5 linked regions of the Homo sapiens genome follow. The protein of the gene in region 2 purifies or fractionates together with the protein of the main gene of each other region. This does not show direct contact. Each region holds a gene or a part of one and is shown on either strand. Other genes may lie near its edges. The genes, in order: SAR1B, FAM171B, BMPR1A, STX6 and FGFR2.

Region 1 (6,190 bases), on a different chromosome or scaffold from region 2:
TGTAGCATAATATGACTGAATGTATCAGTGGTTTATTCATCTTTCTTGCTAAGTAGCATTCCATTATTTATCAATTTCCTTTTTGATGGACATTTGAGGTGTTTCCAGTTTTTGGCTATTACAAATAAAATTAGTATAGGCTGGGTATGGTGGCTCACACTTGTAATCCCAGCACTTTGGGAGGCTGGATGGGAGGATCGCTTGAGCCCAGGAGTTCAAGACCAGCCTAAGCAACATGGTGAAACCCTATCTCTACAAATAAATTAAAAAATTAGCCAGATGTGGTAGCATGTGCCTGTAGTTCGAGCTACTTGGGAGACTGAGGTGGGAGGAACACTTGAACCTGGGAGGTTGAGGCTGCAGTGAGCCGCGATTGTGCCATTGCACTCCAGCCTGGGCCACAGAGTGAGACACTGACTCAAAAAAAAAAAATAATAATAACTCACCACCAACAAATAAAGCTAGTATAAACATTTTTGTACAAGGTTTTTGGTAAATGTATTTTCTCATTTCTCTCGGGTAAGTAACTAGGAGTAGAACTGCCAGATCATAGGATATATGTAGGTTTTCACATATGCTTTTTTTTCCTTTTCAAAAATGTTTTCTTTTCCACACCAGAATAGATCACATATGCTTTTGATTAATTAAAAAATATGAGTTGAAATGAATGTGAGCTGCAGGAAAGGTTGAGATAGCATCTGTTTTCCCCTAGTATCCAGAACAATGTCTGACATAAAGTAGGTGCTCAATAAATATTTGAATAAATGAAATAGAGCAACGTCAAAAAATTAAAAAATGACTTACACCTAATATTTAAGACCACTCTGTAGTCTCTTCCAGTTATGCTGGTTTTTGTTGGGTTTTTTTTCTGTGTTTTTTGTTTTTTTCGAGACAGAGTCTCCCTCTGTCGCCCAGGCTGGAATGCAGTGGCGCCATCTTGGCTCACTGCAACCTCCGCCTCCCGGGTTCAAGCAATTCTCCTGTCTCTGCCTCCCGAGTAGGTGGAATTACAGGCACGTGCCACCGTGTCCGGCTAATTTTTGTATTTTTAGTACAGAACGGGTTTCACGATGTTGGCCAGGTTGGAAATTACGCTGTTTTTGCAGACAATTTTATCTACTCAATTTCACCATGATCATTTTTTCTTTAACAGAATTGTTCTTATATCAGAATCTTACTTGCCAAGCCCCACTTTTTTCTCCTAATATAAAAAAAAGATTTGTTGGCCGGGCGCAGTGGCTGACGCCTGTAATCCCAGCACTTTGGGAGGCCGAAGCGGGCAGATCACGAGGTCAGGAGATCGAGACCATCCTGGCTAACACAGTGAAACCCTGTCTCTACTAAAAATACAAAAAATTAGCCAGGCGTGGTGGCGGGCACCTGTAGTTCCAGCTACTCGGGAAGCTGAGGCAGGAGAATGGTGTGAACTTGGGAGGCGGAGGTTGCAGTGAGTCGAGATCGTGCCACTGCACTCCAGCCTGGGTGACAGAGCGAGACTCCATCTCAAAAAAAATAAAAAGAAAAAAAAGATTTGTCAATTTCCTTTTCCAACCTCACTAATTGTTTTATAGATAAAATACTTTGTTTTGTTCTATCCTCATTCTTTGTTCTTTGAACATTTACTGGACTAAATAATTACAGTATTATCTACTTTTTGGTCCAGTTCTCAATTTTATATTCATTATTAAGGCTACACTTACTATTTCATAATTAATCTATAGATTAACTTGTCTTTAAACTCTGTGTCTATCTGATTCATAAAATTTTCACCTGTAAAAGTAAGGTCACAGGTTAAATTAGGTTTCTGTTTCTAATAATTTACCCACTTTAACATTAACTTTATTCTCAAATTCGTTACATAACCTTAAATGCAAAATAAAATTTATTAAATAATTTACAGAGTCAGCCAAGTGTGGTGGCTCACGCCTGTAATCCCAACACTTTGGGAGGCCAAGGCAGGTGGATCACTTGTGGCCAGGAGTTCGAGACCAGCCTGGCCAACATGGCGAAACCTGGTCTCTACTAAAAATACAAAAATTAGCTGGGCTTGGTAGCACATGCCTGTAATCCCAGCTATTCCAGTGGCTGAGGCAGGAGAATTGCTTGAGCCCAGGAGGCAGAGGTTGCAGGGAGCCGAGATGGTGCCACTGCACTTCAGCCTAGGCAACAGAGTGAGACTCTGTCTCAAAAAAGGAAAAAAAAAAAATTAGAGTCATTATTAAAAAACATTATTTTTGGCCAAGTGTGGTGGCTCATGCCTGTAATCCCAGCACTTTGGGAGACTGAGGTGGGCGGATCATCTGAGGTCGGGAGTTTGAGACCAGCCTGGCCAACATGTTGAAACCCCGTCTCTACTAAAAATACAAAACATTAGCTGGGTGTGGTAGCACATGCCTGTAATCTGAGCTACTTGGGAGGCTGAGGCAGGAGAATTGCTTGAACTCAGAAGGCAGAGGTTGCAGTGAGCCGAGATCGTGCCATTGCTCTCCAGCGTGGGCAACAGAGCAAGACTCCATCTCAAAAAAAAAAAAACTTTCAATTTTTTTGGTATTTTTTGTTTCTTTAGAGACAGGGTCTCACTCTGTTGCCCAGGTTAGGAGTGCAGTGGTGCAATCATAGCTCAGTGAAGCCTTGAACACCTAGGGTCAAGTGATCCTCCTGCCTCAGCCTCCCAAGTACCTAGGACTACAGGTGTATGCCACCATGCCAGACTAATTTTTTGTTTTTGTTTTTGTAGAGATGGAGTCTCAGTATGTTGCCCAGGCTGGTCTTAAACTCCTGGGCTCAAGTGATTCTCCTGCCTCAGCCTCCCAAAGTGCTGGGATTACAGACATGAGCCACCACACCCACCCTTGTTTTAAAACTTCCTGTGTGTCAATATATGCCTTGTTTTCTTTAGATTAATTCTGTGGTGTACATTAGATATTGTTGAGGTTATTAAGACTAGAAAAATAACTGGTTAACAAATTGAGTTACCAGCCATGTATAAAATTGTAATGTATCTACTGAATTAGTGCTTAAAATAGTACATGGTGCAATGGCTCCTATCTTTAATCCCAACACTTTGGGAGGCAGAGGCAGGAGGATCACTTGCACCTGGGAGTTTAAATGGTGCGCTATGATCATACCACGGCACTCCAACCTACATGACAGAGCAAGACCCTGTCTCTACACAAATAAAATAAAGTAATATGGCTTTAAAATCTGAAAGAAGCCTGGGCGCGGTGGCTCACACCTGTAATCCCAGCACTTTGGGAGGCCGAGGAAGGCGGATCACAAGGTCAGGAGATCAAGACCATCCTGGCTAACACGGAGAAACCCCGTCTCTACCGAAAATACAAAAAATTAGCCGGGCGTGGTGGTGGGTGCCTGTAGTCCCAGCTACTCGGGAGGCTGAGGCAGGAGAATGGCGTGAACCCGGGAGGTGGAGCTTACAGTGAGCGGAGGTCGTGCCACTGCACTCCAGCCTGGGCGACAGAGTGAGACTCCACCTCAAAAAAAAAAAAATCTGAAAGAAAAAATTCAGGTTATGTAAACAAGGCGATGGTGGACTATTTACCAATCATGTCACAATCCCTCAGACAAAAACTTTTTAATTCCTCAAGCTAGAGAAGGGAGTACTAGCTGATAAAAAGGTATGAGTACTAATTCAAGATCTAAATATTCTCCCTGGGAGCGAGGTCACCTATAATTTATTATTTTAGGAACAGGTCAAATCACCTGATCATAATTTATCTACCAGAAAATGCCCCCCAAACAAAAAACTTGGCCAGGTGCAGTGGCTCACGCCTGTAATCCCAATACTTTCGGAGGCTGAGAGAGGCTGATCACTTGAGCTCAGGAGTTCAAGACCACCCTGGGAAACATATCGAAACCTGGTCTCTGAAAAAATATAAAAATTAACTGGGCATGGTGGCACATGCCTGTGGTCCCAGCTACTTGGGAGACGGGAGGATGGCTTAAGCCCAGGAGACAGAGGTTGCAGTGAACTGTGATCATACCACTGCATTGCAGCCTGGGCAACAGAGAAAGACCCTGTCTGAAACAAAACACTTTTGGTTAGTGCATATGACTCAGCATCATTTGATCAAGTATCACATTGTATGTAGGAATATACTTACTGGGATGTAATGTTGGGACATGTTGTCCAAGTCTGTCATCTTTTAGCATGTGTAGCAATGTTGTTTTTCCTGCATTATCCAATCCAAGAAATACCAGTTTACCAGTTTTCTTATATAATCCTGCAAAGCAAGAGCTATGATTGGTCAAAGTGATATCTGATACTAATTATCCAAATGAATTTAAATTTGGCCCAATTAAGCTTGAAGTTCTAAACCTATTTTCAGTTTTAAAAAAGCTATTTTAAATCTATTCATGGCCGGGCACGGTGGCTCACACCTGTAGTCCCAGCACTTTGGGAGGCCGAGGTGGGCGGATCACCTGAGGTAAGGAGTTTGACACCAGCCTGGCCAACACGGTGAAACCCCGTCTCTACTGAAAATACAAAAATTAGCCAGGTGTGGTGGCGCATGCCTGTAATCCCAGCTACTTGGGAAGCTGAGGCAGGAGAATCACTGGAACCCAGGAAGCAGAAGTTGCGGTGGTGAGCTGAGATCATGCCATTGTACTCCAGCCTGGGCGACAAAGTGAGACTCTGTCTCAAAAAATAAATAAATAAATAAATAAATAAATAAATAAATAAATCTATTCATGATTTGGGACTTCAGATAATTATAAAACCAAACTTCAACCCAGTCAATAGAATATGTGTTTTGCCTTAACATATCTACAATGCCAAAATGCTGATTAATTTTAGAAGTATCAATCAGGTATTGATTGATAGATAAATTGATAAATAGAAAAAAGGCAGCATTGACCAATTTATAATAGACTGGAATTGAACTGCTAAATTTCATATTGAACTTAATTAATTGATTTATTTAGAGACAGTGTCTTACTCTGTTGCCCAGGCTGGAGTGCTGTGGCATGATTACAGCTTGCTGCAGCCTCAACTTCCTGGGCTCAAGTGATCCTCCCACCTCAGCCTCCTGAGTAGCTGAGACTACTGGTGTGCACCACCACGCCTGACTAATTTTTGTATTTTTTGGTAGAGATGGGGTTTCACCATGTTGGCCAGGCTGGCCTCAAGTGATCTGCCCACCTTGCCCTCCCAAGGTGCTGGGATTATCAGCGTGAGCCACACGCCCAGCCAAACTTTATTTTTTACATGTTTAATGGTCTAACCTCCACAAAATTACATGTGAGCCACCACACCTGACTGAAATAAACAAACTTTTAAAGACATTAGGCAATTATAGTTTCAGGCCATCCGTTTTTGAATAGATTCATACTAAAATAACACTTACTCCTTTGTCCATGCTTAAGTCTAAGAAGTAAATTGTTTGATGTCCTAATCTTTTAGTTTTGGGGGCAGAACTATATATATATTTTATCATTAAGGAATCTACTTCTATGACTGTCACTACTATGAGTGTCACGAAAAAGTAATTTGCCCAAGATTACATAATTTAAAAGTAATTGAACATATTTGTTCAATCGAGTAATTGAACATATTTGTATAATTACAAAGCCCATATTCTTTTTTTTTTTTTTTTTTGAGACGGAGTCTCGCTCTGTCACCCAGGATGGAGTGCAATGGCATGATCTCGGCTCACTACAACCTCCGCCTCCTGGGTTCAAGCGATTCTCCTGCCTCAGCCTCCCAAGTAGCTGGGACTACAGGCGCGTGCCACCATGCCTGTCTAATTTTTTGTATTTTTAGTAGAGACGGGGTTTCACCGTGTTAGCCAGGATGGTCTTGATCTCCTGACCTCATGATCTGCCTGCCTCGGCCTCCAAAAGTGCTGGGATTACAGGCGTGAGCCACCGCGCCCGGCCTTAACTATTCTTAACTATTGCTTCATATATAAAGAGGCTCAACACAAATAAGCACTATTATATAAATAAAATTAAAGGAGATAACTATAGAGAACAAAGGACCAATATTACCTAGAAACTGTAGCAAGGAGGCCGGGCACAGTGGCTCACGCCTGTAATCCTAGCACTTTGGGAGTCCAAGGCAGGTGGAACATTTGAGGTCAGGAGTTCGAGACCAGATTGGCCAACACGGTGAAACCCCATCTCTACTAAAAATACAAAAAATTAGCCAGGCATGATAGTATATGCCTGT
Region 2 (6,190 bases):
CTGTTAGACATACTGTTCGCTAAAGTTAAGGAAATTGGATATATCAGATTGATTGGCCTCATTAATAGAGATATTTCATAAATTCACTATGAAGCCGAAGTCTGGGAGAGTGTTGGTGGGTTTTATGGTTTGCAGTATATTTTTATTTCAATGGACCTTTCAGGAATATTAAATGAATTTTGACTACTGTAATATATATATATATGTTGTGATTAGGGTTATGAACTACTGCAATAATATGAAACCTGAATCCAGCATGCAAATTAAAATGTTTGCTTTCTGATATTTGTGAGGGAATATTCTGAAAAAGCTGATTGTCTGGGAAATTAGCAGTTTTTGTTTTATTTACCTATTAGATTGAGATAAAGGAACCACACTCTTCGATAGATCAAACTAGAACCTGAGAAGTAACCTATGATGATTCTTCTTCCTCAAAAACTCTAATTACCCAAGCCAGTGGCAAACAAGGGAGTAATTCAATTGATTGCTGTTTTAGTTATTGGAATATTGAGTCTTATAATGCAACACAGCTTATAGACAAATGAAGTTAAAATATTCCTTTGAATGCATTGTGATCTCTCCATTGAACTGGTCTTCCTGTTTCAACCTTTGTTTCCCTACTGTCTGTTCTCCTCACACAGCTAGCGATCTTTAAAAAAAAAAAAAACATTAAATAGGATCATTTCTGCCCACACTCCTCCAATGGCTTCCCGTCTCTCTCATACTAGATGCCCAGATCGTGAAAATGGCCTACCAAGGTCTAGATCCTTTGTATCCTCCTTTTCCTCCCGTCTCCTTTAGCCCTTACCCTAACTCTCTCCACTGTAGCCACACTAGCTCTATTTTCTTTAGCTTGCAAGTGGACCCAAGTGTTTGGCCTTTGCACTTGCCATTTTCTCTGCCTGGAATTCTGGAACTTCACATTTTTCAGGTTTGCTCAAGTGTCTCAGTAACTGACAGACCTTTTCCTGACCAGGTGTTTAAAATAGTAATCTGCACATCCTTTTTGCTCTTACCCAGATTCATTCTCCTCCATGGTACTCATTATTCTCAGCTGTTCTAATAAGCCTGTTTTTCCCTTGATAGAACATAAGCTCTGTGAAAACATGGACTTTGTTTTGTTCACTGCTATATTTCTAGTATCTCGAAGAGCACCTGGTTGGTACCCATAGACATTCAACCATTTGTTGAATGGATGGACGGATGGATGGATGGATGGATGGATGGATGGATGGATGAATGAATGAATGAATTCACTTTCTCAGCATTTGTTCGTCTTCATTGGATAAATTCTCCATTGGAGTTTAGCAGGGGATTTATAAAGATAAACGTTATGTAGGAAAGTTTGTAAGTAGAAGTTATAAAGTATGTAAATTTTGGATCTTTAATTTTAGTTAATTTCAGTGTTTATCTTATGCTGACTACAGAAAACTGATTGATACCTATACTTGGGCCTACTTATTGGGTTTTGTGAAGAATTTGGGGTTTTTTTTGAGACAGGGTTGAGTGCAGTGGCGTGATCATGGCTCAAGTCAGTCTCAACCTCCTGGGCACAGCCTCCTGAATAGCTGAACTACAGATGCGTGCCGCTGGGCCCAGCTAATTTTTAATTTTTTTCTTTTTGTAGAGATAGGGTCCTGCTTTGTTGCTCAGGCTAGCCTCAAACTCTGGAACTCTGGGCTCAAGCAATCCTCCCATCTCAGCCTCCCAAAATGTTGGTTTACAAGCATGAACCATAATTCTTTACCTGAGTATACTTAATCTTCTTATGACCTAGGAGGATTTTAACATATATACCTTTAAATAGCTGTGATTGAGCTTGCATTCATTCTTTACCGCTGTATGATGCTTCTGATTCTTTGGACATGCCACATGAAAAACTGTAGGACTTTTCTCAGGCAAAATTTAGAAAACAAATATGACACATTCAATGACTGATATATGACTAAGCCTTATCAGTCCATAGTAGAGAAACTCACCATTGCCTTTGCTTAGTATTCTCTGGATTTTATTATTCTAAAAATTTATGTCTCTTTGTATTGCTGAGAAACAAGAAAGCAAGATTAAAAAAAAACTTGAATGTGAACATTTTTTAAAAATCAGGATTTAAAAAAGTACATTTCCATTTTCTCATTAACTTATAAAAACTCCATCTTCAGAGAGCAGTGAAAATAAAGACTAAGGTTGGTATCCATCAAATCAATTGTTTTCTCCAGTGTATACAACAGCTCTTATTTCTCCATCTGTACCAGTATTTGTTAGAAATATTTGAGGGTCCTGAGAAGAATTAATCTGGGAGCTAGTGGTAGTTGGGACAACCATATTATATTAATTCTGATGGCCCATTAGATGGGAGGCATGCTGGGGTTGGGGGAGAGAGGAGCTGGAGAAAAATAATGAGCTCCATTTAAAATTCTCCATGTGAAGCAGAGACACAGGGGATCTCCAGGGATCATAGAAATGTCTTTTCAGTACAGAGAAAGCTTCTTGAGAGGTATATTTTCATGGTGTGAAAATTTTTGATTGCATATTTCAGTGATATCTATTTTTAAACTTTTTATTTCGCAAGATGTTAAATATATAGAAAGTAAACAGGATAGTGTAATAAAAGCCTATACCTGTCACCTAGCTTTAACAATGGTCAAAATTCTGCCATTGTTTTTTCACCCATACTTCTACCTGTTTCCACTACGTGGGATTTGTTTTTAATTTTTAATTTTTATGGGAACACAGTAGGTGTATATATTTATGGGCTACATGAGATATTTTGATACAGGCATAAAATGTATAATTATCACATCAGGGTAAACATTTATCATTTGTGTTACAAACATTCCAGTTATACTTTCAGTTATGTTAAAATGTACAATAAGTTATTGTTTACTATATTTACCCTGTTGTGCTATCAAGTAGTAGATCTTATTCGTTCTACCTGACTATATTTTTATACTCATTGACCATCCCCACTTCTTCCCCACTCCCAATACCCTTCCCAGACTCTGGTAACCATCATTCTAATCTCTATCTCCGTGAGTTTAATGGTTTTACATTTTAGTTCCCACAAATGAGTGAGAATATGCAAAGTTTGTCTGTGCCTGGCTTATTTTACTTAATGTCCTCCTGTTCCATTCATGTTGTTGCAAATGAGAGGATCTGATCCTTGTTAATGGTTGAATAGTACTCCATTGTGTATATGTATCACATTTGCTTTATCCACTATCTGTTAATGGACACTTAGGTTGCTTCCAAATATTGGCGATTGTGAATAGTGCTGCAATAAACATGGCAGTACAGATATCCCTTCAATATACTGATTTACTTTCTTTTGGGTATATACCTAACAGCTGTATTGCTGGATCATATGGTACCTCTATTTTTAGTTTTTTGAGGAACCTCCTACTGTTCTCCATAGTGGTTGTACTAATTTACATTCCCACCAGTGGTGTACAAGGGTTTCTTTTTCTCCACATCCTCATCAGCATTTCTTATTGCCTGTCTTTGGATAAAAGCCATTTTAACTGGGATGAGATGAGATCTCATTGTAGTTTTGATTTGCATTTCTCTGATGATCAGTGATGTTGAGACCTTTTCATATACCTGTTTGCCATTTGTGTGTTTTCTTTTGAGAAATATCTATGCAGATCTTTTGCCTACTTTTAAATAGGATTATTGGGTTTTTTTGCCTATTGAATTGTTTGAGTTCCTTATATATTCTGGTTATTAATCCCTTGTCAGATGGATAGTTGGCAGATACTTTCTCCCATTCTATGGGTTATCTCTTCACTTTGTTGATTGTTTCCTTTGCTCTGCAGATGCTTTTGATGTGATCCCATTTAACCATTTTTGCTTTGGTTGCCTGTGCTTGTAGGGTATTACTCAATAAATCTTTGTGCAGACCAATGTCCTGGAAAATTTCCCCAGTGTTTTTTTGTGGTAGTTTCATAGTTTGAGGTCTTAGATTTAAATCTTTAATCCATTTTGATTTGATTTTTGTATATGGTGAGGGATAGGGGTCTAGTTTTATTCTTCTGCATAAGGATATCCAGTTTTCCCAGCACTATTTATTGAATAGACTGTCCTTCCCCTAATGTATGTTCTTGGCAACTTGGTTGAAAATGAGTTCACTGTAGATGAATAGATTTATTTTTGGGTTCTCTATTCTGTTCCATTGGTCTCTTTGTCTGTTTTTATGCCAGTTACAATGCTGTTTTGGTTACTATGGCTCTGCAGTATAATGTCAAGTCAGGTAATTTGATTTCTCCAATTTTGTTGTTTTTTTTTTAGCTCAGGGTGGCTTTGGCTATTTGGAGCCTTTTGTGGTTCCATGTAAATTTTAGGTTATTTTTTTCTATTTCTGTGAAGTATGCCATTGGTATTTTGATAGAGATTCCATTGAATCTGTAAACTGCTTCGGGTAGTATGGACTGAGTTTTGTTTTTTTTTTCTTAATAGGTCCTTTTAGAGGTAAAATGTACATATGTGAAATGTACATATTTTAGTGTACACTCTTGACAAAAAGATATACCCATATAAACATCACCCTATTGAGATATAGATGTTTATATCACCTTAGAAAGTTTCTTCATAGCCCCTTCCCAGGCAATTCCTGTCCCTCACCTGGAGACATCTGATGTGTTGATTTCATTTTCATCATAGATTAATTTTGCATTTTATAGAACTTCACAAAATGGAATCCATGGCGTGTGTCCAGCTTCTTCAGCTTAGTATAATTTCCACAGATTTTATTCATTTTGTAGCACATTTAGTAGTTTATTCCTTTTTATTGCTGAATAAATTGTATGAATTACCACAGATCAGTTTATTGATTCTTCTGTTGAGGGGTATTTGGGTTGTTTCCAGTTTTAGCTATTCTGAATGAAGCTGCTATATTCTTATACAAATCTTTGTGTGAATATGTTTTCATATCTGTTGGATAAATGCCTAGGAGTGGAATTGCTTGGCCAACTGATACACTTTTGCGGTGAAAAATGTTTTTGTTCCCCAATATTCTATGTAGCAGGAACTTACCTCTCTTAAGATGATTACTTTAAAAATAATGAAATTTAATGTGTAGTATTACTGTATACTTTTTCTTAAAATAATTTAAACTTCTCTTTAACTTTTTTTTTTCATACGGACTCTTGCTCTGTTGCCCAGACTGGAGTGTAGTGGCACAATCTCAGCACTCTGCAACCTCTGCGTCCCAGGCTCAAGTGATTCTCCTGCCTTAATCTCCTAAGTAGCTGGGATTACAAGTGCCTGCCACCATGCCTGGCTAAGTTTTGTATTTTTTTTTAGTAGAGACGGGGTTTCACCATGTTGACCAAGCTGTTCTCAAACTCCTGACCTCAGGTGATCTGCCCACCTCAGCCTCCCAAAATGCTAGGATTACAGATGTGAGCTACTGCACCTGGCTAACTTTATTTTTAAATTGTACATATTATATTATAACAACATGATATTTTAATAGGCTTATACATAGTGAAATAGTTAACTATAGTCAAACAAATTAACATATCCATCCTCTTATGTAGTTACCTTTTTTGGTGTGGTAACAACACCAAAACCTACTCTCACCAAATTTCCAGTATACAGTACAATATTCTAACTATAGTCCTCATGCTGTACCTTAGGTCTTTAGACTTACTCATCTTACATATCTGCTACTTTGTACTTTTTGTCCTACATCTCACCATTTTCTCTTGCCCTTTGTAGCCACTTAAATCTCCCATCCATGAAAGCACTTATTTACTTACTTTTTTCTGTTCAAGGAATTTGAAAAATCAATAGGAAAAGTGGGATTTGAAATTAACCAAGTAATCATGCCTCAAAGGCCATATTCCCAGATGGGGTAATTATGATTTCTTTCCAGGATTTTAATAACCAAAAGGAGTTATTTCTTGGTATTGATAACAGGTTGAAAAACATATGCCATTGTGTTGAATTTGAGTCCAGTTTGTTTTAGTAGCAGTTTTATAGTGTTCTTAATGTGAGTAAGTAGAAACTGTACCAATTATTTTTCTGAAACAAAGCTCTTCCCCCAAGTATATAAATATTGAACTTGATTCTCTTTCAATGTTCTGTCTGACTAGGTTAGCTCTGGTATTGTTGTCATTCATTTACTTGGCTTAGTGTAATGTTTCTTAATTTCCTTTTGTCCAAGTTGCCTTAGCTAGGAAATGGATACACT
Region 3 (6,190 bases), on a different chromosome or scaffold from region 2:
AATCCACTTCTTTTAACAAATGTTTCATTTTGGATAACAGTTTTTTTAATGTACTTTAAAGAAACTTTACTCACGCTCTTTATATTTAAGATATTTATATTTATTCTTAGAAAAACGTTACTTTATTATTATCCCTTGCCCTTACAGCCAGAAAAATATCAATTTGGCCATTGTCAGAGAAGAAAAACTTCCTACACCCTCTTAGGTTCAGTAATTGAGGTCTGATAAATTAAACTGACAAAGAACACATCTGCAAGAGAAATGACAGATTTGATTCACATATGTAGAATAATTCACAGAAAAATGTGACCCAAGGGGGCTGTCCGAATTTGGGGCATGTGTACCATCTTACTAGGGGAACTGGAACTAGAAAAGAACAATGGGCTGTTGCAGGAAAACAAGTAACATGTAGGAAAGACAAATGGACCCTTAGGACAACAGTTGGACATAGGATAGTTTATAACAATGTCTGTTTAGGTGTGGTGCCAAATTCTCTCCAGCGACAAGAGACCATCTTCCCTGCTTGCAAAACTCCCAAGGAAGGGATTTATGACAACTGGAAGTTATGACAATTGAGTTCTTTGGGGGAGGATCTAGTTTTAGGCAGACAAGGGAGTTCAGGAGGAAAAAAAAGCTATTCTCAAATGTTTCCAGATTAAAATATATGTTTTGTTTGTTTGAGACAGGGTCTTGCTTTGTCACTCAGGCTGGAGTGCAGTGTAAGATCATGGCTCACTGCAGTCTCGAACTCCTGGGCTCAAGCGATCCCCCCACCTCAGCTTCCTGAGTTGCTGAGACTACAAGTGCATACCACCACATCTCATTGATTTTTAAATTTTTGTAGAGACAGAGTCTCAACATATTGCCCAGGCTGGTCTAGAGCTCCTAGGCTCAAGTGATCCTCCTGCCTCCGCCACCCAAAGTGCTGGGATTACAAGCATGAGCCACCAGGTTTCCAAATAATTTTTATGTTGCAGTAGCATATTCTGGACGCCTTTGCCATGAACAGATACAAATATCTGAACATTTACTTTGTACAAAGCATGCATGTGTACTGTTAGCAATACGAAATATTTTAGCACAAAAATCAAAGGAGCGTATAACAAGTTGAGAGTATAAGACAAATGAAACTTAAAATTTTTTGTTTTTTAATATTCATACAACAGCAAAGAAACCTTATATCATGAATGTTTTTTCAGCTGGCAAACTGGCAAAGATAAAAACAGACTGATATGGCCGGGCGTGGTGCCTCACGCCTGTAATCCCAGCACTTTGGGAGGCCAAGGCGGGCGGATCACGAGGTCACGAGATCAAGACCATCCTGACCAACATGGTGAAACCCTGTCTCTACTAAAAATACAAAAATTAGCTGGACATGGTGACGTGCACCTGTTGTCTGAGCTACTCCGGAGGCTGAGTCAGGAGAATCACTTGAATCCGGGAGGCAGAGGCTGCAGTGAGCCAGGATGGCACCACTGCACTCCAGCCTGGCAGCAGAGCAAGACTCGGTCTCCAAAAAAAAAAAAAAAACCATCCTGGCTAACACGGTGAAACCCCGTCTCCACTAAAAATACAAAAAAAAATTAGCCAGGTGTGATGGCGGGCGCCTGTACTCGGGAGGCTGAGGCAGGAGAATGGCATGAACCCAGGAGGCGGAGCTTGCTGTGAGCAGAGATAGCGCCACTGCACTCCCGCCTGGGTGAAAGAGCGAGACTCCGTCTCAAAAAAAAAAAAAAAAGACTGATATGATTATGTTGGGAGGAGAGAACATATTCAAATACTGTTGGCTGGAATATGAATGGTTACGAAGATTTTGCAGGGTGGCTTGGCACTTTCCATCCAATCTGCACGGCTTCTCTTATAGTAAATGCATTTCTAAGAATTCATTTCATAAAATAAAAACAGTCTCAAAGGATATGTACAAACACCACAGCATATTTGCAATGCAAAAGAAAAAAATGGAAATAATCTAATTATTCATTAACACGAAACTGGTAAGTAAAATTAAGGTATAATCAGAAAATGGAATAACTGCTTAACTACTATAAAGAATGAGATGATTAAGGCTGCGCACAACACCTCACACCTGTAATCTCAGCACTTTGGGAGGCCTAGGTGGGAGGATCACTTTAGCCCAGGAGTTCGAGACCAGCCTAGGCATCATGGTGAGATCCCACCTCCACACACACAAAAATTTTTTAATTAGCTGGGCATGGTAGCATGCACCTCTGGTCCCAGCTATTCAGGAGGCTGAGATGGGAGGATTGCTTGAGCCCAGGAGTTGGATGCTGCAGTGAGCTGTTTGCACCACAGCACCACTGCAGCCTGGGCAACAGAACAAGACCTTCCCTCAAAAAAAAAAAAAAGAATGAGGAAATTGAAATTTACTGACATAAAAAGAATCCCCCTATATATTCAGTGAAAATAAATTTAAAGATAAGGATGTATCGTATGACCCCATTTTAGGAAATGGGGACAGAAAAAAAGAAAGAAGGCAACAGAAAAGAAAATTTTTTCTAGCTCTATACTTTCAACAGTGGCAATCTTGGGGCACAGGTGAAGCATGATTACAGAAGACTTTCATTACTTCATTTCTGTATTGTTTGAAATTTCAACCACAAATATGTGTAACTTCTGTTAACAGAAAACACACAGTTCTATGGTAATACGTAGTTAGGGAAACTATACTAGAGTTTCACCATGTGTATTAGCATATTAAAAGTTCTGAGAAGGTTTGTAGTAAAGAAATCTAATATACCAAAAGATTATCTTCAAATAATGATGCAGCAAAGAGCCAACTATGAGGCTTGGACCACTGAGGAGGGCTTCATAGGAGAGAGAGGAATATTCTTTTTTTTTTTTTTTTTTTTTTGAGACAGAGTCTTACTCTGTCGCCCAGGCTGGAGTGCAATGGTGCAATCTCGGCTCACTGCAACCTCCACCTCCCAGGTTCAAGTGATTCTCCTGTCTTAGCCTCCTGAGTACCTGGGATTACAGGCGTGCCACCACACCCGGCTAATTTTTGTATTTTTAGTGGAGATGGGGTTTCACCATGTTGGTCAGGCTGGTCTCGAGTTCCTGACCTCGTGATCCTCCCGCCTCGGCCTCCCAAAGTGCTGGGATTACAGGCGTGAGCCACAGCACCTGGCCAAGGATTTATACTAGATTTTAAAGCATTCTGATGGGCAAAGAACCAGGGAAAGGAAAGTCAAAGGCAGTACTGTCCAATATGACGTGTAATTTTAAACTTTCTAGTTGCCACATTTAAAAAGTAAAAAGAATCCTGTGAAATCAGTTTTGTTTTTTTAACTGAGACAAGGTCTCACCACGTTACCCAGGCTGGTCTCAAGCTGCTGGGCTCAAGCAATCCTCCCACAGTGCTGGGATTACAGGCATGAGCCACCATGCCCGGCCAAAATCAGTTTTAATATATTTCTTTAATCCAATGTATCCCTAACAGTATCATCTCACTATATAACCAATATTTTAAAAGCATAATGAGATATTTTACATCTTTTGGTACTATCTTCAAAATCTGGTACGTAATTCACACTTAGACTAGCCACAGTTCAAGTCTTCAACAGCCACATGTGGTAGTGGCTATCTATTGTAGTGGACAGTAGAGGTCTAAGGATTCTGAACCCAAACCTGAATCGGATATTTACGTGACTTAGGCTGATAAAATAGTAGGAAAGGAAGCAAAGCAGAAAAGGCTGACTTGGCCAGAGCAGGAGACCAGTCCAAGATATTCTGGATTTTCTATTGTAAGCAAATAAGAAAACAGGGAAAAATATTTAACAAATAGGGATGATGACCAAAGCAGTACTTCAGAAAGATTAACAGTTTTTGCTAAAATATACACGTACAACTTCAACATGCAATTTTTCCCCCACATTTTTATTAAATAAAAGATTATAAAATGAAGGAAGAATAATCTGTCACCCAGCGATTATATTTCATTGATTTGGTATACATTTAAGATACTTCTGAACAGTTACCACTGAAATATTTTTATTTCATGACATTTTTAAATGATTCTTGAAAAATGCAGACATTAAGAGCCTCACCAAAATTTAACAGCCTTTACTTTAATATTTTCTAACAAGAGCTTCTTTTAGCCAGGAATCTAAAACATTCTTATATACAAATTTAAAACACTCAAGACCCTATACTCTTGAAATACATTACAAAGCATTTTAATTACTAGTAAGAAAACTACCTACAAATCTTAATATACATAAAACAGTATCAAAACTATCCAAGTCAGCCAGATGTGGTGGCTCACGCCTGTAATCCCAGCACTTTGGGAGGCTGAGGCGGGAGGATCACGAGGTCAGGAGATTGAGACCATCCTGGCTAACACGGTGAAACCCTGTCTCTACTAAAAAATAGAAAAAATTAGCTAGGCGTGGTGGCGGGCTCCTGTGGTCCCAGCTACTCAGGAGGCTGAGGCAGGAGAATGGCGTGAACCCGGGAGGCAGAGCTTGCAGTGAGCCAACATGCGCCACTGCACTCCAGCCTGGGCGACAGAGCGAGACTCCGTCTCAAAAAAAAAAAAAAAAAAACAACTATCCAAGTCTCCTACAGATTTCTCACCTTCAAAATTGAGAGTCTATCTTCTCAACATTTTGATACTTTACCCAAAGGCTAAAGAAAAAAAAATTAATGCTCAAAAAAGGAGGTAAGAAAGCAGGATACGGGAAGGGCACCGCAGGCATAAGCCATACTCCCTTTGGTACTTGCAAGGACTGCCAAGGCTGGCGTGATTCTTCAGCCAAAAGTCAGAAGTCCAGTGATGTCATTAGGACCAAAAGCATTATATGACCTTCAATTTCGGCAGCTAACTGTGCTGCAAGTCAAGATATTTTCTTTCTTTTTCTTTTTTTAAGCAGAAAAATTATCTTAAAGTTCACCATGTTCCTTCTATTTTTTAAGATAAAGAAACGAAGATTCGGATTGGGTTAGTGTGGCATCCGTGATTGAATAGGTACTCAGTAGTAAAACCAGTATCAGACATTATTTATAAAAAATTAGAAGCTGAAACTTAATCATTCCGCTGCTTCTTTATGGCTTTTTATACTTCCCAAATTACCCACAATAGATGTATTGCCTTTAAAATTTTTAAAAAGCTGCAAAAACTGCTCACTTTACCGAATACTTCTGGCCGGGCGCAGTGGCTCATGCCTGTAATCCCAGCACTTTGGGAGGCCGAGGTGGGCGGATCACGAGGTCAGGAGTTCGAGATCAGCCTGACCAACACAGCGAAACCCCGTCTCTACTAAAAATACAAAAATTAGCCAGGCGTGGTGGCTCACGCTTGTGACCCCAACTACTTGGGAGGCTGAGGCATGAGAATCGCTTAACCCGGGAGGTAGAGGTTGCAGTGAGCCAAGATCACGCCACTGCACTCCAGCCTGGGCGACAGAGTGAGACTCCGTCTCAAATAAATAAATAAATACTACTGAATACTTCCAAAAACAGTCTCCTTGTCCTTTCTTGCCTAAGGTCTCACTCTGCGGGCTACCTTTCTCAGGAAAGCCTTCCAAAGTACCCGCATCCTGAACAGCCCAGCTTCCCTTATCAGTCTTGTAACATTCCCTGGACTTCCTTTTTGTAGATCTTAACATAACTACAACTAGATAATTATTTAATGTCTATCTTCTCTACCCAGGCCTTAAGTTGAAATTTCTCAAGACTGGCCAGGCGCAGTGGCTCACACCTGTAATCCCAGAACTTTGGGAGGCCAAGGCGGAAGGATCACCTGAGGTCAGGAGTTGAGACCAGCCTGGCCCACGAGGCAAAACCCTGTCTCTACTAAAAATACAAAAAGGAGCCAGGCGTATTGGCGGGCGCCTGTTAAACCCAGCTACTCGGGAAGCTGAGCCAGGATAATCACTTGAACCCAGGAGGCGGAGGTTGCAGTGAGCCCAGATCGCACCACTGCACTCCAGCCTGGGAAACATAGCAAGACTCCGTCTCAAAAAGAAAGAAAAAAAATTCTCAATGCTGTTTTAGGCTCTTTGCTAGACCATACAAGGAGTTCTCGATACGAGGTCTATAACCTATAACCTGTAATTCTATAACCTATAACCTATGTCTTCCTCTGCCAGATATATGCACCTGCCTGAAATGAGACCACAAAAGTGAAGAACAGAAAAGACAACCTCAATTAATTATATCATTTGAGCAC
Region 4 (6,190 bases), on a different chromosome or scaffold from region 2:
ATAACAATTTAAAATAGATCCACACATGCCATCTTATTCTGAAGTAGTAGGTATTTTTCTATCAATGAAAGAATGTTCAGGAGAAACAGTAACTGGCTTAACTGTTGTTTTACATAAGTTCCCTATTTTGGCAAGGAAATCTTAAAAAACCAGTAAAATAAAGAAGGATTTTGTAACTGCAAAGAAAGTTATTCTACTGGGCTGGGCGCGGTGGCTCACGCCTGTAATCCCAGCACTTTGGGAGGCCGAGGCGGGCAGATCACGAGGTCAGGAGATCGAGACCATCCTGGCTAACACGGTGAAACTCCATCTCTACTAAAAATACAAAAAATTAGCTGGGCATGGTGGCGGGCGCCTGTAGTCCCAGCTACTTGGGAGGCTGAGGCAGGAGAATGGCGTGAACCTGGGAGGTAGAGCTTGCAGTGAGCCGAGATTACGCCACTGCACTCCAGCCTGGGCAACAGAGTGAGGCTCCATCTCAAAAAAAAAAAAAAAAAAAAAAAAAAACACAACGAAAGTGACTCTACTGGGAAAAAAACCAAACACGGTGGGGGATCACAAAGCCTTAACTTTTCCCAAGTTAAAGCTACAAGGAGAAGATAAAGACTGCACATACAAGTCTTCCATTCTCTGATTCTAAGGCATCACAAAAAAAAAAAATGTGCCATAAGAAAGGGATCAGCTAGGCACGGTGGCTCACGCCTATAATCTCAGCATTTTGGGAAGCTGACACGGGCGGATCACCTGAGGTCAGGAGTTCGAGACTAGCCTAGCCAACATGGTGAAACCATGTCTCTACTAAAAATACAAAAATTAGCTGGGTGTGGTGGCACGCACCTGTAATCCCAGCTACTCAGGAGGTCAAGGCATGAGAATCGCTTGAACCCAGGAGGCAGTGGAGGTTGCAGTTAGCTGAGATGGCACCACTGCACTCCAGCCTGGGTGAAAGAGTGAGACTCTGTCTCAAAAAAAAGAGAAAGGGATCTGTAAAAAATAAGAAAGGGATCTGGATGGGCATAACTATGAGACAACACCCCCAAGACAGAGTTCTAGAATTAAGTACAAATGCTTAAGCTTTAAACGCCATACATACCACTGGTCATATGAGATACTTTTGCAAGTTTCTTCATCACATTGTCCAGCCGGGACTGAGTGCTCTCCAATTCGTGAGAGAAATCTTCCAACATACTAGAGAGAAGCAGACACAGAAGGTCGCTGGTAAGCACAAAGCCTTGGCAGTGCACTTGCACTGGGTTAAAAGGACCAGGCCTCCATTTTAGCAAACAAAATAGGCAACACTGGGTTTCAGGACCTCACTCTGTTATCCAAAATCCTTGGGACAAGATAGGATTTTGATTTTGGAATTCTCAGGATTAAAAAAAGCCTAAATTACATATCCTTTGTATTAGTCGACACCACTAGGAGGACACCACCAGGAGGGTCTGGGGCAGTCCCCGTAATCAGATACTTAATATTTCTGCAGAGAAAACTATGAGGAATCACAGTTGGAGTCAGTTCAGGTAAGGTTTTTCTGTAACATGAGCTTGCGGCAAATTTAAAGAAAAAAAAAACAACGAGATTTCTTTAGAGCTTCCTAGATTTCAGAACTGCAAGACTATAGACCTGTCTATACAATAACACAAACTCAGTGGCAGTGCAATGTGGTAGAAACAATGCTATCTGAGGCAGACAACCAGGCTTTGCCACTTGTTTACATTGCTACCTTCGACAACATACTCTATAACTCTTTGGGACTGTTTCCTCACCTGTAAAATAGGGCAATCCTATCAGCTCAACTTCCCTCACAGGGCTCTTGTGAGAACCAGGTAATAAACAAAAGCACTTTATGTCAATATGAGTTAAGGAATGTACTTTAATAAAATAACCTCCTATAAGGCACTACGTGCTTTATTATAAACCCAGAAGGCCTCAGGACTAACATCCCTGATGGGGTGTGTGACAGTGTGTCTGTGCATGCACACGCGCATTTCCCCATCTGTCCTCACAGAGAAACCAGTATTTCCCACTAGGAAAACTGACTCCAGCAGGCTTACACTATTTGCTGTCCAATGTGCAGCTGGGAAAGAAAACCCCAAAATACTATTTCAGCAGTGCCTATTTCATAAGTCACTAAATATTCCAGACTTTTCAACTTTTGATTAGTAAATGATTATTCTGAGGCTAGAATGTAATATGCCAATTAGTACTAACAGTCTTACTAAAAAGGCTGTATTAACTCTGACAGCATCAATGGCAGTTAGAAACTCCTGGTCTTGATCTGTGCCCACAATAGACACCTGACAGCCTTGCAGGATTCAGGGCAACCAACTCTTCATTAAATCAACTGTTACATATATGTTGACAACTAAAATAAGTCTTTGTCCCTTACCTAAATTTTCAAATTAAAAAATATTTAACTCATTTTAGATCCTGGCAGCATCTTGGCGCTGCAGCTGGCAGGCCTATCCAGGCAGGGCCAAACTCTAAAAAGCAAGAGCTACCTTTCTGCGCTAGGTATGACTTTTCATACTGAAGACAAAACAGGCACATCATCAGGCACATCATCCGACCTTCAGTCCATGGACACTCACCAACCAAGTTGCTAGCCCAAATCTATCTCAGTACCATCCAACAAAAATATGAGTCACATATGCCATTTTACATTTTCTAGTAGCCATGTTTGTAAAAATTTCAAAAGAAACAGGTGAAATTAATTCTGTTGTATTTAGTTTAATATAGCCAAAATACTGTAATTTCAACATGTAATATAAAAATTATTAATAAGCTATTTTATATTTTTCTATATGAAGTCTTCAAAATCCAGTAAGCATTTTACCTCTGGAGCACATCTCAATTCAGACTGGCCACATAACACTTACTCAACAGCCACATGTGGCTAGTAGCTATTATACTGGATGGCACAGGTCTAAGTCCAAATCCCATGCTTTTTCCCATTTATCTGTTATTTCTATTTTTTTAGAGACAGGGTCTCCTCTGTCACCCAGGTTGGAGTACAGTGGTGCCATCATAGCTCACTGCAGCCTCAAACACCTGGGCTCAAACAATCCTCCCACCTCAGCCTCCTTCCCTAGTACTTGGGACTACAGGTGTGAACCACCATGCCCAGCGGTTTCATGCCCTTAAAAACAAACCCCTTTACTATTGTTCTAGTGAGCTGTGGAGAGGGAGTGGAGGTAGGGGTGTGTCAATGCACCATCTTTAACTGGAAGTCCCTCTGACTCTATTACCCACTGCCCAGCCAGGCTGCCTCATCAACAGAGAAGCTCAGGCCATTAGTCCTTTCCCCTCCTCAAACTGAACTTTAGGGTCAGGACCCATTTTAGATAGACATGAAACAGATTCTGGCTACTCCAGCTTCCTACCTGGTCTCCCTACCTGACTCCACTGCAGCACATCATCTAAATCACACCTGATCACACCATCACTCCTCACCTCACCTCCACTGGTCTCTCATTATGCTGAGAATAAGTAGTCGTACCTCCTTACCATGCTGACAAGGCCTTCCCTGGTTTGTTCTCTGCCTCCAGACACATGGAACCTCTCTGCTCCATGCACGTGTGCACCTCTCCATCTTCACAGGTGCATTTTCTTCCTCCTGGTCTACACACCCCACACCACCTGCCTCCACACCAACTCTCACCTCACCTGGCTAGCATCCACACATCCTTCAGATTTCAGTTAAACCCCTCTTCCTCAGGGACCTTGGGCTAAGTCAGGGCTCTCCAGGCAGCATGCACTGGCCCCATCACAGGGGCCCTCCCACTTCACTGCCATCACCTAATGACCCCTCGCCACTTACCCAATATCCGTTCTACCCTGCAAGCGGCAAACTCTTTGGCAGAGATGGGTTGTCTTGTCTGCTCTGTTCCCTTCTATATCCCTTGGCTTCCAGAAGGCCCGGTGTAGAACACGGGCCCACTAAGAATTCATAATCAATCAATGTGTCATGATAAACGTAATATCGAGACAGGAAAGTTTCTGAAATATCCTGGTGGACTGTTTTTTCATTTTTCTCTTTCAAAAGATTTACAAAATGATGTGGCAGCATTTAAGAATGCAGTTTTTGCCATCGAACTTCTGGGTGCAAAAGGGATTGTTCATAAGGAAAAACAAACTGAGGTTATGTTTTGTTTTTATTTATTTTTCTGAGAGGAAAGAGTTTTTATTAACTGGCGTTAAATTTGTAAGTTTTTTTTAAAAAAAAAAAACAAAGTTACAATAATTTAAGATTCAAAGCAAAACGTGTCTGTTCAATATAGCAGGAGAGTCATGGGATGATAAAGTCAGCTCATGTCCTATCCTCTCTGGAACAAAAATTCCCACAGGTTACAGAGGCTTCTCTGTTTCATATTCCCATTCATAACTATACTTCGAGTATCTGCTCAGAGACATCTGTGTCTGTTTTTGGAGGTGTTTAAAAATAATAACAACTTCACCTAAAGCCTGTAGTAAAATTTACGAAGTAGAATTGCTTCTTTTGGGGAGGCTAATCTGTAAAACAGAATAAAAATGCAGCTATGAATAAAATAGCTTTTGATTTTACCAGCCACGTAGCTGCCAGGCTTTTTAGGGGTGTCATAGGATGGCTCTGCCCCTCAATTTCACTGAAGCGAGAGGGGTGTCTCAATACTCACACTGCCTGTTCCTCCAGCTCCCCTCCGATGCGCTGGGACATGTTCTTCAGCACCCCGATGCTGCCAGAGACCAGCTCCAACTGCTCATCCTGCTGTTCCACGATCAACTGGTGCCAGAGAAATGGGAAATAAGCAATTAAAATCCATCTTACCTGGTTCCAAGCCCAGCACTCTAGCAGCTGCTAGTTTCTTTGCCAACTTGGGACAATTCACATTCAGAAGCAAAGCCCAGAAATCAAAGGACCAGACCGTTGCCTCTGAGAACACACTGCTCAAAAGGCTGGATTGTTAAGCTACTGATATCTCCTGCTGATCCAACTTGTGAACAGTCAGCGGGGCTTGAAACCACCAAGAGAGATTTACTCTGGTTGGCTGACGTCCAATAATGGAGCAGACAATGGTTGAAAGCACACGTGCAGATGACCATTGAGACATGGGGATGTTTGGGAGGAGGAAGCCCATTGCCAAGATCAAGGTCTCAATCCACAACAGACTGCCACAGCTTAAATACAAGAGAGTCTGGCAAATCTCTGGATGTGGGGAAACTATGCAGTCTTTCCTCTCTCTTCAAGGACAAACGAAAGGATTCCCTGTGGCAATAAGTTACCTCAAGGACAACTACTGACTGACAAATATTTACTTTTAGTTGTGTTGCATTCTTCTCACTTTCTATAGAAAAAAAATTTCCTGGGTTTAATAGCAATTTAAGTAGACAACTGGTTAAGCAGACATACTAATGTAAAGAACAAAAGAACATATAAACTACATGTATACATAAAACACAATATTTAAGAATCAATAGTTTCAATGGGTACATGCTCCTCAAATCCCCAGACACATTATCATTAGCTTGCTTTTATTAATACAGCTACATATCAAAGGCATCAACAGACATAATCAATTTCATTTTCCTTCTACCCCTTAACCTACACAAAAGCAGTCATCTTTACATATAACAAAACCAACCAATAGGCCGGGCGCGGTGGCTCATGCCTGTAATCCTAGTACTTTGGGAGGCTGAGTCAGGTGGATTGCCTGAGCTCAAGAGTTCGAGACCAGCCTGAGAAACAAGGTGAAACCCCGTCTCTACTAAAATACAAAAAAAAAATTAGCTGGGCGTGGTGGCGTGCACCTGTAGTCCCAGCTACTCAGGAGGCTGAGGCAGGAGAACTGCTTGAACTCGGGAGGCGGAGGTTGCCGTGAGCCGAGATGGTGCCACTGCACTCCAGCCTGGGTGACAGAGTGAGACTCCGTCTCACAAAAAAAAAAAAAAAAAAGAAACCAATCAATAATTTTCGAAGAAAAAAATGAGAGATCTTTCTGAAAGTGTCTTTGCTGAGATGGACAAAGGTCTGTTTTTTCTAAGAGAACTAACTGAGCTTGGTTCTTTATTTTTTTAGAGAAAGGGTCTTGCTCTGTCACCCAGGCTAGAATGCAATGGCATGATCGAAGCTCACTGTAGCCTTGAACTCCTGGGCTCAAGGATCCTCCAGCCTCAGCCTCCTCAGTAGCTAGGACTAAAGGTGTGAGCCACC
Region 5 (6,190 bases), on a different chromosome or scaffold from region 2:
ACCTACCGCACACCTACGACCATCTGATCTTCGACAAAACTGATGAAAACAAGCAATGGGGAAAAGACTCCCTATTCAATAAATGGTGCTGGGATAACTGGCTAGCCACATGCAGAAGATTGAAGCTGACCCCTTCCTTATACCATATACAAAAAATCACCTCAAGATGGAAGAAAGACTTAAATGTCAAATCCAAAACTATAAAACCCCGGAAGACAACTTAGGCAATATACCATCCTGGACATAGGAATGGGCAAAGATTTCATGACAAAGACATCAAAAGCAATTGCAACAAAAGCAAAAATTGACAAATGGGATCTAATTAAACTTAAGAGCTTCTGCACAGCAAAAGAAACTATCAACAGAGTAAATAGACAACCTACGTAATGGGATAAAATATTTGTAAACTATGCATCTAACAAAGATCTAATGTCCAGCATCTATAAGGAACTTAAATTTACAAGAGAAAAACAAATAACCACATAAAAAGTAGACAAAGGACATAGACACTTTTCAAAAGAAGACATATATACGTCCCACCAGCATATGAAAAAAAAAGCTCATCACTAGAGAAATGCAAATCAAAACCACGATGAGATACCATCTCACACAAGTCAGAATGGCTATTAATAAAACGTCAAAAAATAATAGATGCTGGTGAGATTGCAGAGAAAAGGAAACACTTATATACTGTTAGTAGGAGTGCAAATTAGCCCAATAATTGTGGAAAGCCGTGTGGCGATTACTCAAAGAGGTAAAAGCAGAACTACCATTCGACCCAGCAATCCCATTACTGGGTATATACCCAGAGGAATATAAATCATTCTACCATAAAGACACATGCACACAAATGTTCATTGCAGCACTATTCACAATAGCAAAGACATGGAATCTACCTAAATGCTCATCAGTAACAGATTGGATAAAGAAAATGTAGTACATATACAACATAGAATACTATGCAGCCATAAAAAAGAGCAAGATCATGTCTTTTGCAAGAACATGGATGGAGCTAGAGGCCATTATCCTTAGCAATAAACCAAATACAGAAAACCAAATACTGCATATTCTCATTTATAAGTGGGAGCTAAATGATGAAAACTCATGAACACAAAGAAAAGAACAACAGACACTGAGGTCTACTTGAGGGTGGAGGGTGGGTGGGAGGAGAGAGAGGAGCAGAAAAAATAGCTATTGGGTACTGGGCTTAATACCTGGGTGATGAAACAATCTGTACAACGAACCCCCATGACACGAGTTTACCTACATAACAAACCTTCACATGTACCCCCAAACCTAAAATAAAAGCTAAATTTAAAAAAAAAAAGAACTTGGCCTCAAGTTCTTGACCAAACTACACTAAGAAGGCAAGTCAGGGAGGAAGATGGTGTGGTAAAGATGGGGTATGATTAGCAACACCAAGCATTTCAATGCTAGGAAAGCTAAAAAAAGTAGAGCCATCTCTAAATCTCATGGGATACAGCAAAAATCTCTAAATCATATGGGATACAGCAAAAAGATGGAAAAAAATGCAAAACTTAAGGCTAGGACAGGTGTGGTGGCTCACACTTGTAATCCCAGCACTTTGGGAGGCCAAGGCTGCCAGGAGTTGGAGACCAGCCTGAGCAACATGGCGAAACCCCATATCTACGAAATATTTTTAAAAATTATCCAGGCCTGTAGTCCCAGCTACTCAGGAGGTTGGAGGACCCCTTCAGCCCAGGAGTCCGAGGGTACAGTGAGCCACGTTTGACAATGCAGTGAGGGTACAATTGCACCATTGTACTCCAGCCTGGGTGGCAGATCAAGACTCTGTCTCAAAAAACAAAAACAAACAAAAAACCAAAGGCTAAAATCATCTCTCAAGGAAAAAAAAATAGAGACCATAAGCATTTTGCACAGTTGCATAAAACCTACTGGATCAGAATTATCTGTGGAATAGCCTAAAAAACTTCCAAAAAATAATTTCTGAACTGCCTACAGAGATGTCCCCCTGGCGAGAATCGGACCAGTACAGTGGAGAGTAGCACACCAGCTATATTTCCTACCTAGCTTAACAGCCAGGCACCCAAAAATCAATTTCCCATGTTTTCCTTTAATGACTAAAATTCGCTTCCATGGAAATGTAAGGGTAAGCTAGATTAGAGGGAGTTTTTAACAATTACCCTGGCTAAACAAACACCTAAACAACAGTCTGCAAACTGGAAGACTAGTGGATACATTTTATTGAAACTACGAACATTAAACAAAACACTTCCAGTTTAAACACGACCCCAGTTATTTCATAGCCATGTAATTATTTGTTAAGTCTGATATTAAAAACATCTCATATTGGATTGCTGTGGTTTTGTGAATTCTCACCCTCAACTGGGTCAGAAAGACTTGAAAGGAATAAAGTCTTTACTTATGGCTTGATGCGGGGCCATTGGCATAGTAAGTGCTCTGTCTTTTAACTGGTTGAAATAAACAGACAAAACAGAAACACACACATATACCCCAAATTTGAATCAGAGAGAGCCAGTATAAAATGATACAAGTACCAGTTCTCTGGGCTTGCCAGATTTCTGCTCTATAAGTAATATTAAACATGGCTCTTGGTCTATGAATTGTGAAACACTTTATATACTAATAAAGAATGTGTACTTCATTGTGTATTTAACTGCGTAAGCCTGTATTTGGTTTAATTGACCAAGAATAAGTCCTTGTTCCAAAGCTAACTATCAAGTTACAGTCAACTCTTAAATATTAACACTCATATTGAAAAACAAAGATGCAGATAATACGAAACAGAAGATTATTTTAAATCATTCACTCTTGGTATGCGGATATATTCTTTCTTCCTTTCTTTTAACTTGCAATTAAATGCGTATGGTTAATATTATGGCATTTACAATACTTCTAACAAAGGACTTAAACCATACTGGAAAAATCTGACTTAGGGAGGTCTCTGTGTAGATCCTGTCCTCGACGTTTCTGCTACTGAACTCTGGACCAACTCACGTTGGTCCAGGAGAGCATCACCTCTCAGAAGATTGACAAAAAATTGCTACACAAACTACATTTTTTTTCAGGTTGTTACTTTTCAGAGTCACACTCTGTGGAGGGTGGGAAAGTAATTAAGGGTGTAGGGTTGAAAAGCCCTTTCATTTTAGCTCCTACTGGGTTGGTGTAAACAAAGATGCCATTAATGTCAACAATGACTTAATTAACCAGAGTAGGTGACAATGTCAGGAAGAACTTGAAAGTAAGAGTTGCCCCCTCTCAGGGTAATCAAGCTTGACTAGACTTCAAATATTTATAATGTTAATCAACAGAATAGTACTTGGCATTGAGGACTGCCCCCCTTCGAGTCAATAACCATGTTTTCACTCCTCTGCTGGTGCCCTATAACAATGAATGACCAAAAGGAAATTAACAATGAATGACCAACTGGAAAACTCATATTTAATCTGAAATATTAAAAACTAAAATCTTCTAGAGATTATTTTCTTAAGTCAATTGAGTGGGCCCAACCCCACTGCTACTATTTCAGAACGTGTCCAGAAGACAAATGATATATATGATATATGATATGACATATGATATGATACGATATTGCACAAAGCCAAGATGACTAAACATAACCTTTCCCTGAGGGGCCAAAAGAAAAGGACCCTCTAGTGTTAGGGCCCAGGCTTCTTCCTGGAACTTCTCAGTCACATTTTTCTCCTATCCAATAGACATTATCTAAACTGAGCTTCCAAATAAATTAGCAAACCAAAAAGTCTTACAAGATAAGACCTTGGTGCACAGAAGGTCAAGGTGGAACTTACTGCTAACCAAAGCTATAGTAGTTCTAATCATGGAGAACTGATGGACAGGGGCACAGGCACGCACGCACGCACGCGCACTCGCGCACACACACACACACACGCACACTCTCTCTCTCTCTCTCTCTCTTCCAATTCACCAGCACAGAGCCTAAACCTGAGCCCATTTTCAGCTGTTAAAAACTCCTTTCTCATCTATAATTCAATGACCTTCCTAATCACCTCTGACACCAAAGCGAACTCCTGCAACAGAAGAACTGGTCTTAGGGCTCAAATCAGTGGCCAGTATTAGACTAACAGATGAGGGGAAGTGGGGACCCTACAGAAAGCAAACACAGCTTCCTGGAAACACCAAGGGCCTCCTCCATCCAAAAACAACTTTCTTCTCAACTGTCTCCAAAAGCCTAGATGTTTTTTGACATTGTGGCACCTGGCACAGCCAGCCCACGGGACTGGGAAGACCCATGTTCCCAGCTCCCTGGCGACAACGGCGACAAGGCCATGCACCCGGTGCTTACTGGATGCCAGCCCCTGTGCTAATTGCTCTTTATGTCCAGGTCAAATGGAAATCTCCTAACAACCTTTTGGTGGAAGAGTCAGAAGACTTCTGAGGACATTAATATTCAATGACTATTAATGAAGAGACCCTAAAGATCATCTTCTTAAGCCCTCAGACGACAGAAAGGGAAACTGAGGCCTGGGACTTGTATACTTTTCCAAAGCCTCTTCTTTGCCAGGTTTTGCACCTTCCTCTAAGACATCTTTTCTTTTCCATCTCATAATTCTGGATGCAAATGAACTCATAGCTCATGGAAACTATAAACCCATAAAAATGCACAAAAGGACATTAACAAAATATTACCTAAAATTTCCAGAACTTCATCGACCTCCTTCCTGATCCATAAGTGCATCCACAGATCCCAGGTTGAGCAGGCCTGCTTCCAACAATACCCACATTGTTGGATGTAAATTCTTACACAAAGACTCACTCGGGGAACTTCGTCCCTTTCCACGATTTCTTCCCTCTGCCTCACCTGTCCCTCCCTGCATGTATACACAATTTTAAACTTCCTTCAAGAATTAAATACAGTAAAACAAATCCTCTGGGACCATTTTACACTTTATGTTGAAATAAACTCACAATAACGCTGCCCTGAAAAGCCAAAATGAAAAATGACAGTTTTTCCCTAACCTGGGTTGCTCCTAAAGCCCACACCGTAGGAAATCCCAGCTCAGCTTCCTCAGTTTTTGCCGAGCCACGCACTCAAGGGAAAACCAGCAATCACGGAAACATCCATTTTAATTATTAGCAAAATTAAAGACGTACAGGCATGACTTTCAGAAACCAGGAACTTTTTCCCTCTTACATGAAAGCCCTGTAAAAATGCATCACCACTGCAAATTACACTCATCCTGGTGTCCCAGCACAAATCACCAAGAGGCAGTTCCATAATCGGCCTGTAGCTGTAGCTATACAAGCCTCAGACACAAACTCCTACCAGATTCCCTTCCCAGAGACGCAGGGAGATGTCACCACACCTGTTAATTATAGAGCTGCCATCCCTCTGTGTAACGAAAAGTTCCCCAGTCTCACACGATTGCTTCAGGTGATAAGTGCTTCGGTCCTCATCCTTCAATGACAAGTGCCTGGGGTCTTCCTGGGGAGCCCATGTCTCTCAGAACTCTCATCTCAGATGGACGCAACCCTCCTTCCTAAACTGTCCTGATCCAGCTAAGGAGGCTGGGCTCTCTGTCCTCTCCCAGCCTACCCCACTGGGTAAGTGTGCTGTTCATTCACCCCACGCACGAGATGTGTTCCCAGAGCAGCTCAGCTTACCCCAGACACCACTCGGACTGCTGCGGGTTCCTAAAGCCAGGCAGGCACCAGGTGGACTCTCCACAAACAGGTTCATTAAGTGGCGATGAGTGCTGGGATCTGCCGTTTTATTCTCGGATTACCACTCGAAAAATAACTCAGCTACCAATATTCCCTACTGATGACAGATTTCAGTGCAGCACCAAGTAGAGGCTTGGCTCACGTTGTCTCCAAAGGGCTGGGAGAGAGGTTCCAAATCTGCTAAGCTGAATAATTCAGCCTCATGTAGTCCTCGTAATTGGACTTACACCTTGAAAATTAAATTTCCAAAGCTGTGACACCGGCGCATGCCCTGTGATACTTGGAGGTTCTCGGAGCTGGAGGAGATCCCCTGGCACATTCACTTTCAAGTTTACCTAAACTAGAATCTGCCACTCTGTGATGATGCATTGCTTAAGTATTATGAATTACAATGGCTAAAAAAAAATTCTGAGATGTCAAGCCTCTCTCTCTGTGCTAAACTTCAGAAACTTCTTTTCTCCTTAAACAATGAAAATAAGATGTC

The links.
Region 1: the proteins of FAM171B (region 2) and SAR1B purify together in Homo sapiens (affinity purification with mass spectrometry; one large-scale study listed by BioGRID and IntAct). This does not show direct contact.
Region 3: the proteins of FAM171B (region 2) and BMPR1A purify together in Homo sapiens (affinity purification with mass spectrometry; 2 studies listed by BioGRID and IntAct, with this or other methods). This does not show direct contact.
Region 4: the proteins of FAM171B (region 2) and STX6 purify together in Homo sapiens (affinity purification with mass spectrometry; 2 studies listed by BioGRID and IntAct, with this or other methods). This does not show direct contact.
Region 5: the proteins of FAM171B (region 2) and FGFR2 purify together in Homo sapiens (affinity purification with mass spectrometry; 2 studies listed by BioGRID and IntAct, with this or other methods). This does not show direct contact.

What each region holds. Positions count from the first base shown.
Region 1 is NC_000005.10:134,616,812-134,623,001, forward strand, and holds part of SAR1B (small COPII coat GTPase SAR1B), read right to left. Parts: intron 4,242-6,190; coding exon 4,122-4,241; intron 1-4,121. UniProt on the Homo sapiens protein: Small GTPase that cycles between an active GTP-bound and an inactive GDP-bound state and mainly functions in vesicle-mediated endoplasmic reticulum (ER) to Golgi transport.
Region 2 is NC_000002.12:186,695,805-186,701,994, forward strand, and holds part of FAM171B (protein FAM171B precursor), read left to right. Parts: intron 1-6,190.
Region 3 is NC_000010.11:86,762,166-86,768,355, reverse strand, and holds part of BMPR1A (bone morphogenetic protein receptor type-1A isoform 3 precursor), read right to left. Parts: intron 1-6,190. UniProt on the Homo sapiens protein: On ligand binding, forms a receptor complex consisting of two type II and two type I transmembrane serine/threonine kinases.
Region 4 is NC_000001.11:180,983,584-180,989,773, forward strand, and holds part of STX6 (syntaxin-6), read right to left. Parts: intron 4,763-6,190; coding exon 4,656-4,762; intron 1,189-4,655; coding exon 1,094-1,188; intron 1-1,093. UniProt on the Homo sapiens protein: SNARE promoting movement of transport vesicles to target membranes. Targets endosomes to the trans-Golgi network, and may therefore function in retrograde trafficking.
Region 5 is NC_000010.11:121,587,095-121,593,284, forward strand, and holds part of FGFR2 (fibroblast growth factor receptor 2 isoform 1 precursor), read right to left. Parts: intron 1-6,190. UniProt on the Homo sapiens protein: Tyrosine-protein kinase that acts as a cell-surface receptor for fibroblast growth factors and plays an essential role in the regulation of cell proliferation, differentiation, migration and apoptosis, and in the regulation of embryonic development.